3 linked regions of the Homo sapiens genome follow. The protein of the gene in region 3 purifies or fractionates together with the protein of the main gene of each other region. This does not show direct contact. Each region holds a gene or a part of one and is shown on either strand. Other genes may lie near its edges.

Region 1 (7,026 bases), on a different chromosome or scaffold from region 3:
TCTAACAGAGATGGCCACCCTGAAAGACCCAAATAATGGTGCTGGAAAGGACACTGTCAAATACTGTCAGGTAGTTTTGCTACTGAGGCAGCCACTCATCCAGCACAAGGACTATAAAAGCAAATCAATCCTTTTAACAGAACAAGAACACAGTTACAGGTGCTACCACATTAACAGACTGTGAAAGTACAAAGTCTTTAGTGATTGTGCCTTGGGAAATAAATGGGTCAAGGAAAATAAAATGAGAAACAAACAAAGGATGTATGGAAAACTAGAGGTTAAAGGATACTATATGAACAACAGAAATTTTATAAAACAAAAATCTAAAAATGAAATACTTGACAGTGTCCCTTTGACATATATAAAAGAGGGCACAAATAATGTTTTTGTTTTAAAAAATATTTTAACAACAGTTTTAATAGAAAAAAAATCAACTGACTTGAATTAAGCCAGTGTTCTTGACACCCACTGGGCCAAGAGCATTAAAACAAAACAAGACCGGAGAAGTTAATAAACACAGCTAAAGACAAAATTGGACAAAATAAAACAAAAGAAAACACAAAGTGAATAAGCATCCAATCAGGCAAACATGGACACAACCACCCTGAAAAGGTCTAGCCGTTGCAACTCAGTGGCATCCCCATCACCTAAAAAATGGTAGTGGCTTCTCCCCACCCCAGTGAGCTAATATTCAACATTCTGCTGATCTTATAAGTATTATTTGGTCCAATCTGAAGAAGGTCTTTTTAAACTAAAACTAGTCTAATGAAATTACACCTCAGGAATATGGAGGTGAAATTTTCTATTTTTAGTATTGTAATAGGATCTGGGCAAATTTTGCAAATATGTTGCCATCTGGATAAAAGTTATTAAATATAGATGCCTTTTTACTTACCAAGGCATTCCTTTCCCACTCCTCTTTAGTTTTAATAACTTGATTATAGTTTTGTCATGGCGCGTGGACCTGTCCAGTCAATTGTGTGTTTCAGTGCCCTTTGGTAAAGAGACTGTACTTAGCACACACACAGATACACATAATTCACAACAGCTGAGAAAGCTTGAGGGATCTGGGAAACACAAAACACCAAGAACAATGCAAAACAAATAGATTACTGCTGCATATCACTTCAAGTTTTTTAAGGGGAAAAAAAAAACACCTAAAAATAAATGCATCAAAGTATTTTTTAAAATACAGAAACGTGTACTTCTGGATGACTGATATTAATTTCCTTCCTAGCAGTCTTTTCAAGATGTTTTTGCTTCCCCTTAATTGTGACTCAAAGCTAATCAAATTGAGAGAAATGTAAGTTATGGCCCAAGGCCCTGCATTCACATCTACCTAACATCACATGCACAGGTTGGATGTAATTCAGATGCTCCAGTTTTGTTAACTGTTAATAACACAGAATTATACAAAGTTTTGCACAGCATCACATGTAATGACACATATGCTATATGCAATCAGGTAGAAAAACCGTATTTGCAGAATGGTTTAATAGATAGGTGTCAGGAACATGGTGGAAGCAGAGTTTCATGAGTGCACCTGTGCCAGAGTCCTCTACCTGTCACTGTGCTGTGAAAGTACTGCAATGAGTGGAGTTTCATATGCCTGCTGTGTATAAATTAGCTTTCATTTCCACATTGTAAGCTGGCACACTGAATTAGGGGAGCCTGGCAGCTGTATAAAAATCCTGATTAAGAGATCAAACTAGAGGATCTAAAGTGAATTTTTAATCTCTGAAATTAAATTCACTGGCTCCCATGTCTGGATAAGAATTATTGCCCCTAATGCCCCAACGTGCAATAGTCTGTGTGAATCAGTGATTCACATCCTTTAAAATAATTATTGCTTAAGCAAGCCATTTAGAGTAGATATGGGCTATGTGGCTGGATAGAAACACACTCAAAAAGTTAGACTAGACGGAAACAAGCCTTTCATTTCACTGATAAACCTACATAAATACACGATCGAAAGGGGCAACAGGTTCATAGCAGCTAACACCCTAAACCAACTCTGAAGCATCAAGACGTGGTTTCTTACTAAAACAAATCAGCTGTTTTTGTATTTTCCTCTTAAAATTAAGGCAATGAAATGGCTACAGTTCCTAAGGTTATTTTTACGGAACAAAAATATACATGTATTTTCCTCCTCAAGTTCAGGCATCAGAGTATGATTAGTGACTTGTATTACACAAAACCTGCAGCACTGGGTTGATGTGAGAGAGAGAGAGAAAAGAAAGAGAGAGACAGAAAGCAAGAAAAGCAAGAAAGCAAGCAAGCAAGAAAGCAAGCTAAGAAAAAGCCAACAAACCCCTGGTGATGTTTCCCCTTCCTGCTGAATTATAAAACCCAATCATCAAAGGGAGGAAAAGCTAGAAAGCACAAAACCTCTTAAGAGTTTTCAATGTCTCTTTCATTGATTCAAAACTTTTGGGGTGACGAAAGGGAGAAGCTTATTAACATGAAGACTCCTGGGCCCAACAACCAGACATTCTGACTCTGAAGGTCTACAGTTGGGCCTAAGAATCTGCCTTTTCACCAGCTCCTCAAGTGATGCAGGCGATCTATGGAGATTTTGAGAAACACTGCCTAGCATATATCCATTTCATATTTAATGACAAAAATTCTAAACTTTGGCTAGCCACCTATGTTAAAAGGAAAAAAGGCACTGCATATGTATTTCGTGGTGCCCATATCTGTTTGCACATATATGGAATTTCATTTTGAAAATTTTAAATCACCATTCAGAATCTAAAAGACATATATATGACAGATTGTGGCTAACACTTAACAGCAGAAGCTGATGCCAAGTTGACCTCTCCTGTTTCACTGTATTACATACATATCAAAGTTTCAGGCTCTCCAAAATCCAAAATGGCCAAATGAACTGAGGAATAGGACAAGACTCAAGTCAACTTTCAGCAATTCAGTGCACTTTGCAGAAAGGATCTAAATTAAGCATAAAGTTCTGTTGTTTATTTTACACAAAGGAGACCACCAACATTTGCCATAAATTCTTCTAAACTCTTTAAGAAGGCCATCTTCTGCTTCCGATCCAGCGTAGGAGGAGTGCTGCTTGCAGTGAGCTTGTTGAAGGCATCTGCTAATCTCTGGTAAATAACTGGGTCTTGCTGACTTGATAGTAATGTTTCGACCAGTTCAGAATATTCAGCCTATTGAAGAGATAAAGTATACACAAGTATCCTCCTTAGAATATCATACAAGTAGATCTTATCAGTTACTGGACTGTGGGGTTCTAAAAGGCAGGGACACATTTTTAAGAGTTAACATTTAGAATAATTCAGCATTTAAGTACTACTGTTTGAAAACCTTTTACATGGATTAATTCATCTATCATTTACAACAATGCTTCGAGACAGGTACTGTTTCTATTCCCATTCCAGAGGTGAAGGTTTCGACACTCAGTGAGGTGAAGTGATATGGCCCAGATCAAGCAAGAGTCCACCAATCTAGCCCCAAGACCCATGTGATAATCAACTTTGTTGTGCTGCCTCTTCAAAGCACATTATTCCTATTTATGTTGCGTTTGACACATAATCTAAGTCTGCAATAGTTCCCCAGAGGTTAATAGAGATATCTGGTCCACCCAGTTCTGAGGACAGCAATGTGCACAAAGACAGGACAGGCAGGAGTCTTTTGGGAGGACGGGGCGGAGAAATATATTCCAGTGCCTTCTCCAAGTGGAGCAGGGCACTCTGAAAGCTCCAAACCAGCACTGTGCCCAGCAGCTCTTAGAGAAAGGGCAGGAAGAGGACTTTAGTAAATATAGGAATATGGGAAATTTTCTGTTTTTAATACTCTATTATAAAGCCTTATAAAGGAAAGTGGAAGAAGGTGTGGGCTTAAGGGAAATTCAACCAGGACAGAGGTAAGCTCTCAAAAAAAGCTGGCCTGGCCAAGCATAGTGGCTCAGGCCTTTAATGCCAGCACTTTGGGAGGCTGAGGAGGGATGACTGTTTGAGCCCGGGAATTTGAGACCAGCCTGAGCAACACAGTGAGATCCCACCTCTACAAAAAATTTAAAAATTAGGCAGTTGTGGTGGTGCACAGCTGTAGTCCCAGCTACTTGGGAGGCTGAGATGGGAGATCGCTTGAGCCCAAGAGGTTGAGGCTGCAGTGAGCCATGGTTGCTCCACTGCACTCCAGCCTGGGCAACAGAGTGAGATCCTGTCTCACTGCAACCTCTGTTTCCTGGGTTCAAGTGATCCTCCTACCTCAGCCTCCTAAGAGCCTGGGACTACAGGCATGCACCACCATCCCTGGCTAATTTTTGAATTTTTAGTAGGGACAGGGTTCTGCAATGTTGAGCAGGCTGGTCTCAAGCTCCCAGCCTCAATCAATCCACCCACCTTGGTCTCCCAAAGTGCAAAAATTACAAGCATGAGCCACTGCACCTGGCATGCTGTAATTTTTCATTGGCTTCTTGGGATATCATGATAGACCAAAATGGTGAAACCAAATGTTAATTACATTTGGAAAAGAAGGATAAGGTGCAGCATCCCAATCCCCAACCATGGAGCCAGAGTGGCTCCCCTAATTGCCTTATCAAAGGGACAGTCCTGTTCACAGGGGACCAAGTATAATCTCCTATCATTTCCCTACTCATGAGAAATGGTAGAGGTGGCAAGGCATGGTGGCTCACACCTGTAATCCTAGGCACTTTGGGAGGCCGAGGCGAGTGGATTGCTTAAGTTCAGGAGTTCGATACAAGCCTGGGCAACATGGTGAAACTCCGTCTCTACAAAAAATAAGCCAGGTGTGGTGGTGCACACCTGTAGTCCCAGCTACTTGGGGAGCTGAGGCGGGAGGATTGCTTGAGGCCAGGAGGCCGAGGCAGGAGTTAGCAGTAATTGCACCACTGCACTCCAGCCTGGGTAATAATAAAGTGAGACCCTGTCTCAGAAAAAAAAAAAAAGCGAGATAGTAGAGCCTCTGGGGCCAGGCAGCAAGTATCATACTGGCCATTCCTGAAACCTGCTCTTTCCTGCAGTGTGTAAATATGTTAAAAGAGAGGGAGAGAGAGAAATAAAGGAAGAGAAGGAAGGAAGGAAGAAAGGAAGGGAGGAAGAGACAAGAGGGTGGAAGGGAACGGGGGAGGAAAGGAGGGAGGGAGGGAGGGAGAAAGAAAGAAAGAGGAGGGAGGAAGGAAGGAAGAAAGGAAAGAAAAGAAAAATGAAAGAAAAAGATAGAAAAAAGAAAAGAAAAAGAGAGGAAGGAAGGAAGGAAGGAAGGAAGGAAGGAAGGAAGGATCAGACAAGACGACTACCTTGCTAGTAAGCAACAAGTAAGACAAATGACAGAGAAAGGGCACAGATTTGAGAGCAGGTACCACCTGCAGGAAGTGGCAGCCTAGGGCAGAGAGCAAGAAATGAAGCCCCAGGGCACCTTCAGCTTAGGGCACAGATGTTACGGGAAGTCTAGAGAAAGGAGGTCTTTAAATAGTATGGAAGACCTCCTCTAAACCCTTTTTTAAAGATGGAAATAAAACGCCAAAGCTTCTTGGCCATGCTGGGAGGTATATATATATATACGTGTGTGTGTATATATATATATATATATATGTACCTTACATATATATGTGTGTATATATATGCATGGGAGAGGAAAAGGGGAAACAGAGGCAGCAAACTGTTCAATACGGTCCTTTTCATAAATTTCACAGGCACCTATTCGATCAGAAGTGGGGAGACAGGTAAGCTAGCCTAACTCTTCTATTAACCCCATTATCAGTGATGCTTCAGAATCTTTAAAAGATCAACAAAATGAAATAATATACTGTTTTCTATAATATGCAATAAAATACTGTCTTCCATACTGTCTGAAGGCAGACTCTTCCTTGTCTGCCATCCTGTCTCCCTTACAAAAAACCATGAGTTCTTCACACACCCATTATGTATTCCTCATTCCTAGCACAGTTGTTTAAGGACAGGCTTTGGGGCAGTGACCATTGCAAAGGATGGTTCATAATGGTGGAGGACAAAAAATAAATGCTTTGAACTGACAAACAGCTGTCAGATAAACACAAACTGACATGTGAAAGCTAATAAAGAAGCTAAGAAATACTTCCTCACTGAAACAGAACTGAAGCACTGAGTCACAGATCCTATAAGGGGGGATTAATGACCCACCATCTATCTCAACAATCTCTTTGCAAAATAGAATGAGAAGAGTCCCCTGAAAAGAGGCATGTCCAGTACCTGGTGCAAACACACCAACGTGTAGAAAGCTTCGCCAGCCGCAGTGGTCATCTCTGTGTTGTGCTTTTGCAAAACCAGCATATCAAAAACCAGCTGAAATTACATAAGACTTCTAAATAAAAACATAGGATGATCATATATCCTCCAGTCCCTCCCCAGTCCAAAAAAGAAGAAGAGAGGGTTGGTTGTTATTCTATTTATTAAATCAATCTGAAATTTTCCTTAATGTTTTAAAAAAAATACCTTACAGATATTGCTACTTGCTGTGGTATCTGAATAATCAACAATATCAAATTCCCTCAATGTGTACCACATCAATTTCCAAGAACACAAAAAATAGAGGATGAGAATGTGTCCATGAAGAGCTGATCTCCAGAAAAAAACAGTGAACAGGAAGTCATGGTTTCCTTGCCCCCGAAAGAATGGAAGCATTTCCTCATTTGAATGCAGAATTATGTGCACCGACCACACTTTTGAAAGTAGCTGATTTTCTGACCTACCGCACAGACATCTTACCTTAAGAAAGTGCCGTGTTGCTAGAAAAAGTGGTGAGTCTGTTTCTTGTGCTTTTGCACACTGTTCAGCTAACGGTGTCAAGGCCTCCAGGCAAAGCTGGCAAACCTCCGAACTCATTCTGATCATGAAGGTCAAAGAACAAACTAGATTGGATATATTCGATTTATAAAAGATAAAAAAATTATAGCTAGTATTAAATGGATGAGTGTTTCTAGAAATGAATACAGATACACAAGTAGACTCATGGGCAATATCTTCACTGAGTTATATAAGGAAAGAAGATTTCCAGTGT
Region 2 (7,026 bases), on a different chromosome or scaffold from region 3:
GGTACGTGCCTGTAGTCCCAGCTGCTTGGGAAGCTGAGGCAGGAGAATCGCTTGAACCCAGGAGGCAGGAGTTGCAGTGAGCAGAGACTGTGCCACTGCACTCCAGCCTGGGTAACAGAGTAAGACACCATCTCAAAAGAAAAAAAAAAAAAAAAAAAGAACAAAAGGGAACAAGGATAGGAAGCTGTTTTTTGAATTCAGGTATAGTGTGGCAAGCTGTAAAAAAAGCAAGAATTTCACAACTCACCATTAGCTGATTTTAAATCAGGGAGGATGTGATTCACAAAGAACTCAGTTAGGTTTACAAGTTCATTTGCTTGTGTAATTCCATGCTGAAAAGCAAATTCATAACATAGTAAAATAACAAAATACCTGTATATATCTATCACATTAGAAATTCAGGCAATTTTAGAAAACCATGTTAAAATGGAGATGAACACTTCAAAATACAAATTGCTTATGTATAAAATGAGACTGTACTGGCTGTGTACAGGAGCTCACGGCTGTAATCCCAGCACTTTGGGAGGCCGAGGCGGGTAGATCACTTGAAGTCAGGAGTTCAAGACTAGCCTGGCCAACATGGCAAAACCCCGTCTCTACTAAAAACACAAAAAATTAGCCAGGTGTAGTTGCATGCACCTGTAATTCTAGCTACTCGGGAGGCTGAGGCATGAGAATTGCTTGAACCCGGGAGGCAGAGGTTGCAGTAATCTGAGATGTTGCCATTGCATTCCAGCCTGGATGACAGAGCAAGACAACGTCTCAAAAAAAAAAAAAAAAAAAAAAAAAAAGAGAGAGAGGGACACTTCAAAACATGAACTGCTTAGGCTAGGCATGGTGGCTCATGCTTGTAATCCCAGCACTTTGGGAGGCCAAGGCAGGTGGATCACCTGAGGTCAGGAGTTCAAGAACAGCCTGACCAACATGGAGAAACCCCATCTCTACTACAAATACAAAATTAGCCAGGGTGGTGGCGCATGCCTGTAATCCCAGCTACTCGGGAGGCTGAGGCAGGAGAATCACTTGAACCCGGCAAACGGAGGTTGCGGTGAGCCAAGATCGTGCCATTGCACTCCAGCCTGGGCAACAAGAGCGAAACTCCGTCTCAAAACAAAACAAAACAAAACAACAACAACAAAACACAACCTGCTTATGTATAAAATATAAAATAAGACTATACTGTCTAGGCACGGTGACTCACACCTGTATCCCAGCACTCTGGGAGGCTGAGGTGTGAGGATCACACGAGGTCAGGAATTTGAGACCATCCTGACCAATATGGTGAAACCTTGTCTCTACTAAAAATACAAAAATTAGCCAGGTGTGGTAGTGCACACTTGTAATCCCAGTTACTTGGGACGCTGAGGCAGGAGAGTCGCTCGAACTCGGGAGGTGGAGGTTGCAGTGAGCTGAGATCACGCCATTGCACTCCAGCCTGGTGACAAAGTGAGACTCCATCTCAAAAATATAAAAATGTAAAATAAGACTATACTAATAGACAATAAAGAAACTTTCCTCAATTAAAGAACAGCTAAGTTTAAGTTAAGCATATTTGATACAGCGGGTCTCAGCTAAGGTAACAAGTGTGGCCATCTATCAATTTTCTGGTCTATAAGAAACTTAAGTGCTCAATACATCAACATAAAGCCATCTTCAGAGATTATATAAATCTTAATCAGAATAGGTTATCTGGCAGAGTAAGCTCTATTATCAGAGACGTTATTTCTTTTTGACTTGTGTGGGTGTCACTGATGTCTGTTTTAGAAACAAAACCACATTAAAAATATTTACCTTCTGTGTTTGGGCTTTTGATGCCAAAGATGTCACTAGGTAGATGGCTGCATCTTTGTGTTTCCAGTTGACAGATGGATTTTTTGCGTATTCCTGCAGCATGGAATTAACATAACCAGAGAAGATTCCTGTCACAGGTCCCTCAAAAAACTTGCATAATCCTCGTACCAGATCACAAGCAGCCCTGCGTCTAGTATCAATATCTATGAAATGAAAAGAAAATATATTATGGGGAAAAAAAACAACCACCAACAAGCTGATCCAATTTATAAGAAAACAAATTGCCTGGAATAATTTGGCTACGATTGTAAAACGGAAAAAAAAGAACGAAAAACAAAGGGCCACCCAATAGCTATCAGCAACACAAACAATGAAAAAAACATTCCCGCCCCCAAGAAATACAAAATCAAAATGAAACTAAAGAGGTCACAGAATCACAGAATTTTGATAAATACTATGTAAGAACAGACAAATGATTCAACTTTTGATATTTTCATTCAGGTCATATAAGAGCTTTTTAAGACAAGTTGAAGAAAGACAACAGTTCTCAATGAAAGCCCGCTGAAAAAACACTCTTATTCTCAATCCCACTTCTCCCATTTACTAGAAAGAGAACCACCTTAAAACTGGCTTGCTAAGAGACTAGTAACTAAAAAACCAAGATACACACCAGATCCTTCCAAATCTCTCCTTATGTACTCCTCAGAATTATCTTCAAATGCTTCTTCATCAGCAGCTACAAGGAGAGATGATATTTCAGATAACACTCCAAAAGACGTCACTGTACTTTACAGCTGAGAATGCAGAAGAGTATGTAAAACTGCCTTGTTCTACAGCAAAGAATTCGTTCCCATCAGATGACTACTTCATATACTCTTAATCATTATCTAGAGCAGCAAATGCTACCCTGAAAGGTGAGGTATTAGGTAATTCACACAACTATGAGATAGGCTCACTTGTTCTAATGTGACAGTTTCCCCAGAATTGGATTATACCTGCAACTGTCAAAAATGTTAGGGATCAGTATCAGAATGCTAACTTTTAATTTCACCAAATAAGAACATTAAAATACCAACAACCTAATTTTAATCACTATTATTTCATTAAAGTCATTTCAACAACAAATAAGTAGAGTGGACAATGTCAGAAATGGCCGGCATGGTGGCTCACGCGTGTAACCTAGCACTTTGGGAGGCTGAAATGGGAGGATCGCTTGAGCCCAGGAGTTTGAGACCAGCCTGGTCAACACAGCGAGATCTCATCTCTATTTTTATCATATAAATTAAAAAAAAAAAAAAGTCTACACACACACACACACACACACACACACACACACACACACACTGCAGTTGTATGATCATGTCTCACTGCAGCCTCCACCTCCTGAGCTCAAGCAAAACTCCCACCTAAGCTGCTTGAGTACCTGGGACCACAGGCCCATGCCACCATACCCAACTAATTTATTTATTGTAGAGATAAGGTTTTGCCATTTTGGCCAGGCTGGTCTTTAACTCCTGGGCTCAAGTGTTCCTCCCACCTCAGCCTCCCAAAGTGTTGGGATTAAAGGTATGGGCCACCACACCCAGCCAGAAGATTTATCCTTTAAACATATTTTTATGAAAACACAACAGGAAATAAAATCTCACGCTATATTGTCCTTAATTTCCTTATTTTGTTCCAGATGTAATTTGAAAACCACTGATCTAATAACTATTTTGATATAAAACAAAATCTTGGCCTGGCATGGTGGCTCATGCCTGTAATCCCAGCACTTTGAGAGGCTGAGGCAGAAGGATTGTTTGAAGCTAGGAGTTTGAGACCAGCCTGTGCAACATAGGAAGACCCCCATCTTTATAAAAAATAAAAAACTAGCTGAGCATGGTGGTGCACGTCTGTAGTCCCAGCTACTCAGGAGGCCAGGGTGGGACAATGACTTGAGCCTGGGAAGTTGAGGTTGCAGTAAGCCATAACTGTGCTACTGCACTCCAGCCTGGGTGACACAGTGAGACCCTGTCCCCAAAACAAAAAACACAATCCCTCCCACCTTCATTACTTGTTCTTCACAACTGTTAGAACAAGGACATACATTTTATAAATATAGGCTCTTAGCACTATAGTTTAACCTTAAGCACAAACTAAGTGGGCTTCAACCTTGTATTTATAAAGTTATCATTTCTATTCTCAAGTCGATTGTTTAAAAACAGCTATTTCTGGGCGAGGTGGCTCAGAAATGCAATCCCAGCACTTTGGGAGGCTAAAGCGGGTGGACTGCTTGAGCTCAAGAGTTTGAGACTACCCTGAACAACATGGTGAAACCCTGTCTCTACCAAAAATACAAGAAATTAGCCAGGCATGGTGATGTGTGCCTGTGGTCCCAGCTACTCAGAAGACTGAGGTAGGAGGATCACTTGAGCCTGGGAGGCTAAGGTTGCAGTGAGCCAAGATTGCATCACTGCACTCCAGCCTGGGTGACAGAGCGAGACCCCTGTCTCAAATAAATATATAAATAAATAAAGCCAGCTAAAAATTCATTGAAATAATAAATGAAACAAAATCAAATTCTTTCTCTAAATAGAAATTCCAGATAGTTTATCTTCTTAGTGTAAAGGAATTTTTGAAGTCTTATTTAATATTTCCATGAGAAAACCCTCACAGGGCACAACAAAACTCATTACAGATACTACATTTTCTGTCTTGGTTTAGAAAATAAGAAATAAATGACATACAAGTTTTATCCAGTAATAAATGAATTAGACTGAATATGTTACAAAAAACAAACACAGACTTAGTAGATTTATACTAATATACTTTTGCCATAATTACCTCTAAATTCCATGTTAGGCACAATAACCTTTTCACAGATACTTGTCAGCGTGTTCTGGTCCTCAAATAGATTCTTATAATGAGGTCTCTCACAAACTGAAGCCAGAAATTGAATTGCATTACTTACCAACTGGAACAAAACACAAAAACAAGAATATTTTTAAAAGCAAAACTCAACAGCTTATTTCTTGGAGGAGATAGGGAGAGAATGTCTTTTAATTATTTGTCTCCACCATCATCTTACCAAATCATATTTAACCTCTTGACCCGTTGTAACTAGTAAATTCCAGATGGCTGTAACAAAACGAGGCAGGTATCGCTGGAATTCTTCATCGTACTTTTGTGCATAGAGTGCGGCATTATCACAAATCTGGGATTTTAAGAGCTCCAATAAGCCGGCTTCCTCTTCATCCTCACATAAAAGAAAACAAAAACTCCAACATACAACTCTAATGCTAACATAAGTAAGAGGAGTAACTGAAATTCCTGAACTAGACTCTTTATCAATTAAATCCAAATCAAATCAGTTATTGTAAACTACAGCTATGCCACCACCAATCTTTTCACCAAGTCTTTCAAATAAGTTGCTGAATTACAAAATATTTCCGTATTAGATTCAAACAGTATATTCTGGCTGAGTGTAGTGGCTCACGCCGGTAATCCCAACCCTCTGGGAGGCTGAGGCTGGAGGATGGCCTGAGGCCAGGAGTGGTTTTTTTTTTTTTTTTTTGAGACGCAGTCTCCCTCTGTTGCCCAGGCTGGAGTGCAGTGGCGCGATCTCAGCTCACTGCAAGCTCCGCCTCCTGGGTTCACGTCATTCTCCTGCCTCAGCCTCCCAAGTAGCTGGGACTACAGGCACCCGCCATCACGCCCGGCTAATTTTTGTATTTTTTTTTTTTAGTAGAGACGGGGTTTCACCGTGTTAGCCAGGATGGCCTCGGCCTCCCAAAGTGCTGGGATTATAGGCGTGGGCCACTGCGACGGGCCAAGCCCAGGAGTTTTGAGTCTAGCCTGGGCAACACAGCAAGCCCCCAAAATAAAAAAAATCAGCTGGGCATGGTGGTGCATACCCATAGTCCCTGCTACTTGGGAGGCTGAGGTGGGAGGATCACTTGAGCCCAGGGAGGTCGAAGCTGCAGTAAGTCATGATCATGCCACTGCACTCCAGCCTTGGTGACAGAGTGAGACAAGGGAAGACATCAGAGTAAGAACAAAAACCAAAGCCAAAACCAAAACTCCCTCACACTGATTACTTAAGGCATAAATAGTAGCACAAGGTAGCACATGGTTAACTGGGCAAAAAGGTCCTTGTAAGAATTCTATCCAAAAAATTTCCTTGTGACTTTTGTGTGAAGAAAAGTTTTGTTTTCTGAAGGAGTGTTTTTCCCTCCCATTGGACTGAAATAATTATTTTATGAGAGCTACATCTTTTAAAGTTCCTATTAATATAGTCAAACTCTGAGACAAAATCTGTTGTACAACGATAGTAACAATTTCTTTCTGTACCCCACTCTTAAAACCTGATTTGAATCACCAATTCTAATTTTTAGTTTATTTGGTATTGAAATATTTTTAATATTTTGTCTTTTGTCTCTTCGGAAAGAAGGTCATAAATATATTAACAAATGAGTAGCACAGAATAAGTGTTATATGTTTAAAAGTACACAATATAAAACCCATATCAGAAATATTTACAAATTACAATCTTTTACCATTTTCTCTCTTTCTCGAGCTGTGGATAATTTTTTCTTTTTCTGAGACGAGGTCTCCCTCTGTCTCCCAGGCTGGAGTGCAGTGGCATGGTCACAGCTCATTGCAGCCTTGCCCTCCTGGGCTCAAGGTCAAGGGATCCTCACAACTAAGCCTTCTGAGTAGCTGTGACCATTAGCATGAGCCAACACATCTGGCTAATTTTATTTTTATTTTTTGTAGTGATGGGGGTCTCCTTACATTGCCAAGGCTGGTCTTGAACTCCTGGGCTCAAGGGATCCTCCCCACCTTGGCCGCCCAAAGTGCTGGGATTACAGGTGTGAACCACCATGCCTAGCCAGATGATTTTTAAAAAGGGGCTACCATTATAGAGTTTTAAGTTTTCTTAGTATCTTCAATGAAAAATAATTTTATTTCATGAAATATCCATAATGTCACTACTTTAAAGACCTACTTTCAATAATGTAATGAAACAGCCTTATATGTACACTATGGCTTAAGCCAAGCCCATGATAAGAGTAATTCTGTATACTACACACACCAAACATGTAACATCAAATAGAATCAAATATTATTACAGTATTGAAATTTTATCTTTTAACAATGCAAGAGTAAATAGGTTTCCAGACTGTAGCCAAATAACTCTTAATGAAAGAAAAAGACCACTCAGGCAACATTTTAAATACTTACATCAGTTTGTAA
Region 3 (7,026 bases):
CTTGAAGTCCAGGAGTGTGTTCCTCCGAGCCCTGCCTGGCAATTTTTTGATGACTTCAAAAGCACATGGAAATGTGTGTTTGAGTGGTTTCCCAACTCCACCCTCTGAAGTGCATTCTGCATTTATGTTAAGATGACACACATGCATCTTATGTATGATACGATGACATGTATGTACTTAAGTGAAGTCGTGTGTGCATGTGTGTAAGGAGAGGTAGAGAGGAGACTCTAGGGAATACCATGGCCAGGGGCAGCGACCAGGCTCTGCTGCCCACAGCTGCGGGTACTGGGGGGGTGCAGCCTGTGTCCACCCCACCTGGAGGGCTTCGGGCTGGGGGCTCACCTGCAGTGCACGGTGATGGGGTGGTTGCCTGTCTGCTGCTGCTGCTTCTGCACGGCTGCGATGAGGTCAATCATGCCTTTGCCCTCGGCGGGAATCCCGATCTCAGGCCAGCCGTGGAAGTGAAACTGGCGCACTACTCGGACCTGCTCCTCCTGGCGGGCCTGGGGCTGCAGGGAGGAGAGGGGGTCTCAGCGTCGCCTGCCTGCCGGGGAACAGGCCCCAGCCCCATCTGCCCTCTCAGGGATTGGCCAAGGCTGGGAGCCCTCCCTGAGCCTTCTGTGCTGCCAACATCCCCACCGAGGCAGCCTGAAGGAGAAGGCTGAAACCTGCTTGTCCTAAAGAAGAAGGCAGGTGGCTGGCTGTGCTTCCTTCTGCAAGGGGGAGCGAGCCGTCCAGAGGACATCCCCTGGATCCCTGTGAGGACTGCCCAACCCCTACGGGATCCTTGGCAGCTCTGCTGGAGAGAAGGGAATCACTTTCTCAAGAAACCAGGGCCCTGCATTTCCCTTCAGAGCTCAAATGAGCAGCATCTGAGTCTGGTGGCCAGGGTGGCTCTGTGGCTGGCATGGAGGAGACAGTGGCAGGTGCATTACGTGATACTGACTGTTTGGAGCTCAGCATCAAGACCTGTGTACAAGTGAGTCATCCTACCTACAGCTGACCCCGAGTTCTCATTCTTTGCCAAGGAGAGAGGATGAGCAGAACCAAGGACCCAGTGGAAATGGGGACAGTTGGGGGGCTCTGAGAAGGCACCTGGAGGAGGGCCCCAGAGAGGCCCCTGTGGCTTCATTAGTCCCCTTTGTTCTTCCTCTTACAGCTAATGGCTAATGTAATTCTCCTGAGAGATAAATGGGAGGTAGGCAGCTAGGGAGATGGGAATTGTACAGGAGGCCTGCCACTGTCTCTGAAACCCATTGGCCATTCATAGCCAATGGGACTAGGTGAAGGAGCAGGACAGGTGCAGGGCCACATTCTGGTTCAATGACAAGCAGAACCCAGAGGGAGGGCGTGGTTCACTAAATTCACAAGCGTTTAAAGAGCTACTTCAACAATACCTGATTGAGAGTGACCAGAAAGTCTCGTATACTGATGGCTTCTGAAAGGGTATCATTCTTTATCTCAATCGTTATTTCTCCATGAGTAACTGAGCCCTCGGTTGGCCAATACTGGTAGCATTTATCCTTAGGGGATAAAATAAAAATTTAAGTCTTGTAATAAATAATTTGCTGCTGGCGATTTTGAGTTTATAACACAGAATTGTTCTCAAACCAGTTAATGTATTTCATCTGACCAAAAAAAAAAACATATGAATATGAATATAAATGCCTGTTAATGCTTGTTGACCCAGGGAACAGAACAGAGTCTAGAAACAGACACATATATATATGAAACCTTAACATATGGCAGAAAGGAGAGATTCTTCAATATGTGGGGCTGGAAAAATTGGTTTTCTACCTGGGGAAAATGAAATTGGATCCCTGACTCATTCCCTACCAGGGTTGATGTGAGTGCCCCCAGCTCTTCCTAGAACTGGGCAGTGTACACCCTGCACTTCCACGTGTCATGGCCTTGAACCTTAATAAAAATACACCCAGATGGAGTAAGGTTTAAGGTAAAAAACAAAACTGTGAAACTCTTGGAAGAAGAAATATCTTTTCACTTTGAGGTACACAAGGATTACTAGACAAGAGCCCAAACAGCTAACCAATCACGATGCAACAATTTGAAACATTGGATTACAGTAACATTCACTTCTCTTCATCAACAAACATCATTAACAGAGTGAAAAGACACGCCACAGATTGCAATAAGATGTTTGCAATACATAAAACCAATAAAGAATTAGTATCAAGATTACGTAAAGAGCTCCTATAAATCAATAAGAAAGGACAAACAATAGAAAAATCAGTGAAAGGCAGGAACAGGCATTTGACACAAGAGGAAATATGTCATCCACAAATATATGAAGTGATGGGGTTGACCTTGGAATCAGAATGATGCAAATCAGAGCCACAAAAAGATAGTATTTATACAATAATTATACAATGAACAATATTTTGTTAATTTTCAATTAACAATAATTAGGACACCTTGAGAATACCATACTAGGTATGTAGATGAATGATATCTCTTATACATTGTTGATGTCCACTTTGGAAAGCAATTAGGAATTATCTTGCAAATTCAAACTTTCACATACTCTTCAATGAAGCATTTTGGCTCTTTGATACATCTTAGTCCTAGTGCAGCATAAGACATGTACAAGAATATACAGGTAGGGAGAACACAAGGACACAGGGAGGGGAACAACACACACTGGGGCCAGTTGGGGGGTGGAGGGTGAGGGGAGGGAGAGCATTAGGACAAATAGCTAATGCATACAGGGCTTAAAACCTAGATGATGGGTTGACAGGTGCAGCAAACTACCATGCACATGTATACCTATGTAACAAAACTATACATTCTGCACTTGTCTCCAGAACTTAAAGTTTTAAAAAAAGAATGTACAGGTAGCACTGTTTGTAAAACAACGAAATGAAACCAACTCAAGTGCCCATGACAGGAGAAGGAATACCTGAGCTAATGCAGGATATAGTTTGTGCAGTGGAATATAATGAAATAATGATGACGAATGAACCACAGCATAAGCATCAACATAGAATATCAAAAGCACAATTTTGAGTGGAAGAAGCAAGTCTCAGAAGACAACATGCTGTAATGATGCTCTTTCTATAAAGTTCAAACACAAGTAAAACTAAACAACAGTCTACGTAGGCATAAACAGATGTGATTTTAAAAGATGTTTTAAAAAAGCAAAGAACATATCCACTAGGATGGCTTTAATCAAAAAGACAATGACAATGTTGGTGAGGATGTGGAGAAATTAGAACCTTATATATTGCTGGTAGGAATGTAAAATGGGGCAGCTACTGAGGAAAACAGTCTGGCAGGTCCTCAAAAATGTTAAACAGTAAGTTTATGACATAGAGTTATGACGTGACCTAGCAATTCCGCTCCTAGTATATACACTCCTAGGCGTATACCCAAGGGAAGTGAAAAAGCATGTCCATACAAAAACTACTACCTGAATGTTCAAGAAACTTTTTTTTTTTTTTTGAGACAGAGTCTTGTTCTGTCCCCCAGGCTGGAGTGCAATGGCGCGATCTCAGCTCAATGCAACCTCTGCCTCCCAGGTTCAAGCGATTCTCCCTGCCTCAGCCTCCCAAGTAGCTGGGATTGCAGGTTCCCGCCACCATGCCCAGCTAATTTTTGTATTTTTAGTAGAAGCGGGGTTTTGCCATGTTGGCCAGGCTGGCCGCGAACTCCTGACCTCAGGTGATCTGCCCGCCTTGGACTCCCAAAGGGCTGGGATTACAGGTGTGAGCAACCGCACCAAGCAAAGCAGCACTATTTATAATAGCTCCAAAGTGGAAACAACCTAAATGTCCATCAACTGATGAATGGATATGCAGAGTGTAGTATATCCACACAAGCAAATACTATTTGCCAGTAAAAAAGAATGATTTACTGATTCATGCTACAACATAGATGAACCTTGAAAGCATGATGCTAAGTGAAAGAACCCAATCACGGAAGACCACATACTGTATGATTCCATTTATAATAATGTCCAGAATAGACAAACCCATAGTCAGGAAGCAGATTAGTGGTTGCCAGGGGTTAGGGGAAGGAAGGAATGGGGAGTGACTGTTAATGGTACGAGGTTTCCTTTTGGGTTGATGAAAATGATCACAGATTAGATAGTGGTGGTGGTTGCACAACTCTGTGAATATACTCCAATTCACTGAATTGTACCCTTTAAAAAGATGAATTGCATGAATTATAGGTGAATTATATCACAATAAAGCTGTTCCTTTTTAGAGCAAAGAAATAAAAACACAAATACACAGCAGTAGTTATGTCTTGGGGGAGAACCCAGATAGATGTACATTGTTGGTAAACCTTGGGTTTACTGTTGTCTTCATGTCTTGAAAAAAGTCAATAAATGTCTTTTTCTTCAACAGGTTATGATCTTGGCCAATACCAAATGGCAGAATTTCAGGGCAGGTTAAATAACATGTAGGCTAAGGATAAAGGGCAGCGGGTAGCTATGGTTAAACCTCACTCCCAAAAAGGGAAAGGGTGAAATGAAACCTTTTTCATTTCCAATCTCTCTCCTTCCCTAGTGGTCCTGGCTTGGTCTCACCCATGTGTTTGCAGTGATGGCAGGTGGGACATTTGTAATGAACGGGGACAGTGCCTCAGGTGCACAGGCTGCCCTGGAGGGACCGGGCTGGGCGGCACTCCTCACCTGCTCTCTCTCCTGCACCTCCGTCAGCATCACGATAGTGTGGGATTTCCATTCCCAGATCATCCTCCAGAAGTCCTCAACCGTGTGTGCCAGTGGCCCCTGGGTGGCGATGAAATAGTCCTTCTGTCGGTAGCCCTTCAAATGGAGGCGCAGAGGTTAGAGTCTGACTTCCTTCCATCCTGGCTCCATTACCTGCTCCCTAAGTTTAGGACAGCCTAAGGCCTAATGAGGAAAACTCTCTCATCCTCCATGGTCTGCACCAGACCCCAGTTGGCACGAGCACTCAGGCACACACCTGACAAGCAGGTCAAGAAGCTCGCTTATCTGAAACCATAACGGCCACCGTCAGCCCCTGAGGTCATCAACAAATGGGTATTATGAACTGGTAGTTGCCTGTGGCCACCTGAACAGCACCTGGTGGCTTAGATTCTAACATGTTTCTGTGTGTTTCAGCTAGATCAGCATGGAGCCCACCGGATTCTGGTACAATTTTCTCATCTGCAAATGGCAATATGAACACACACTTGGCTGCCATTCCCCCTTTTGCCCTTCTTCTGCGAACTCCACTGTGCATGAAGACAGCCTCTGTGTGCCCTGAACACATAATTGTATTGTCCACGTGGGTACACATTGCAGAAATCACACAAGAGAAAGAGCACAGAGGCAGTGGATATATAATTGGTGTGTAACAGATATGTAAAAGAAAAATAACTATATATTAAAAGCAGAATGAAAAAAGAGCCAATTACTTAGCAGCGAGTCTATGTCCTTCTATTTCCAAAGTCCACTTTTTTTTTTTTTTTTTTTTTTTTTTGAGAGGGGGTCTCGCTCTCACTCTGTTGCCCAGGTTGGAGTACAGTGGTGTAATCTCAGCTCACTGCAACCTCAGCCTCCCGGATTCAAGCAATTCTCCTGCCTCAGCTTCCCAAGTAGCTGGGATTACAGGCACCTGCCATCACGCCCAGCTAATTTTTGTATTTTTAGTAGAGACGGGTTTTGCCATATTGGCCAGGCTAGTTTCAAACTCCTGACCCCAAGTGATCTGCCCGCCTTAGCTTCCCAAAGTGTTGGGATTACAGGTGTGAGCCATCGTGCCTTGCCACTTTTTTTTTTAAGCAAGTAATTCTGCTAACAAAAATGGCTGAGTTTCTGGAAACATGTCAATTCTTTCTCATTGTGAAAACAAGCTAATCAAGTCTGTGGTCACATGTGAAGGAAACACATCTGCATAAACACAACCCAGGCCAGCATACGTACGTCTATGAAGGATGCGTTGATGTAGTCTGTGTATTCTTGACCCCTTTTCATGGAAAGGATCACTCGGTTGAAGTCATCTGCAAAGCATTATCTTCCTTTAGTTATTACAAAAAGGGTCCCACCTTGCTAACTTTAATCCATTGCTACAAGCTTGCAAAATATAGATCCTATTAATAAAATCACTACGTAAAGCCAACTCTTTGGAAAGTTTACGTTATGAGAGACGATAATTAAAGTGGCTCAGGGGTATTTTTCTTTTTGAAGGAAAACTCTGAAAACCACCCAATTATCATTTTCATTTTTCAGGAATCGATATAATACATACCAAAATACAAGCACTAAAAATATTGCGCTGAAGGAGTAAATGGAATGTGGCCAGGCAAGCAATCTAGAGTGGCCAGCAGGACACCGGGGCCCCAGAAAACCAAGGGCCAGAGTCTGAAGATGGCAGCACCCCGGGGAGCTCTACTCGCCTGCAGTGCTCGGGGAGACCCTGCTGCAGCAGGCCTGCTCCCAGCTGTTTCCAGATGGTGTTTGTTGAGCTGTGACTCTGTCGAGGACAAGTCTATAACGAGGCACACCCTCCTCCCAAGCGGGGCATCTCCCACCTCCCTCCCTAGTTCCTCGGATCCCTGTGGAGTCTGCTTTGGGGCCGGGTTTCTCAAGTTTCTCTTTTTCCCACTTGGTGAGCCTCCCGATTCCCACTCCCCTGCCCACTGCATGTGGCCCTGTCTTCTTGCCAGCTTTGCCTCCACTCCTCCCACACCTGCCAGGTCCTCCTTCCCTCTCCCATGACCTGGGTGGCAGACCAGTGTCCTGACTCTACCCTAGGCCCATTTCTTGTCCTCCTCAAGGCCACAGCCTTTTCCTAGGTGGTCTCAGCTGAGTTCACCTGCATGGCCTCGGCTGGGTGGCTCAGGCCCCTCTGTGTAAGGGGGAGGCGGGCCTCTGCCCAGGCTTGGGGAGACAAGGAATGAGACAAGGAATCCCAAGTCGTGCCTGCCGCAAATCTCCAGCTTCTGTGAAGCCCTCCCCTGAAATCAGCCTCGGCTGCCCTCCCGCATCTGCAAGCTCATATCCGAAGCAGCTTGCCTGAGACCCATGCAGGACTGTCT

What was found. Proteins that work in one complex are often made in the same cells at the same time.
Region 1: the proteins of PTPRE (region 3) and XPO4 purify together in Homo sapiens (affinity purification with mass spectrometry; 2 studies listed by BioGRID and IntAct, with this or other methods). This does not show direct contact.
Region 2: the proteins of PTPRE (region 3) and CSE1L purify together in Homo sapiens (affinity purification with mass spectrometry; 2 studies listed by BioGRID and IntAct, with this or other methods). This does not show direct contact.

What each region holds. Positions count from the first base shown.
Region 1 is NC_000013.11:20,780,747-20,787,772, forward strand, and holds part of XPO4 (exportin-4), read right to left. Parts: intron 6,853-7,026; coding exon 6,735-6,852; intron 6,312-6,734; coding exon 6,219-6,311; intron 3,174-6,218; coding exon 2,976-3,173; 3' UTR 1-2,975. UniProt on the Homo sapiens protein: Mediates the nuclear export of proteins (cargos), such as EIF5A, SMAD3 and isoform M2 of PKM (PKM2). In the nucleus binds cooperatively to its cargo and to the GTPase Ran in its active GTP-bound form.
Region 2 is NC_000020.11:49,070,286-49,077,311, reverse strand, and holds part of CSE1L (exportin-2), read right to left. Parts: coding exon 7,015-7,026; intron 5,027-7,014; coding exon 4,859-5,026; intron 4,745-4,858; coding exon 4,615-4,744; intron 2,528-4,614; coding exon 2,462-2,527; intron 1,995-2,461; coding exon 1,792-1,994; intron 333-1,791; coding exon 248-332; intron 1-247. UniProt on the Homo sapiens protein: Export receptor for importin-alpha. Mediates importin-alpha re-export from the nucleus to the cytoplasm after import substrates (cargos) have been released into the nucleoplasm.
Region 3 is NC_000010.11:128,071,100-128,078,125, reverse strand, and holds part of PTPRE (receptor-type tyrosine-protein phosphatase epsilon isoform 1 precursor), read right to left. Parts: intron 6,462-7,026; coding exon of another isoform or gene 6,460-6,461; exon of another isoform or gene 6,398-6,459; intron 5,989-6,397; coding exon 5,912-5,988; intron 4,790-5,911; coding exon 4,655-4,789; intron 1,524-4,654; coding exon 1,398-1,523; intron 510-1,397; coding exon 343-509; intron 1-342. UniProt on the Homo sapiens protein: Isoform 1 plays a critical role in signaling transduction pathways and phosphoprotein network topology in red blood cells. May play a role in osteoclast formation and function.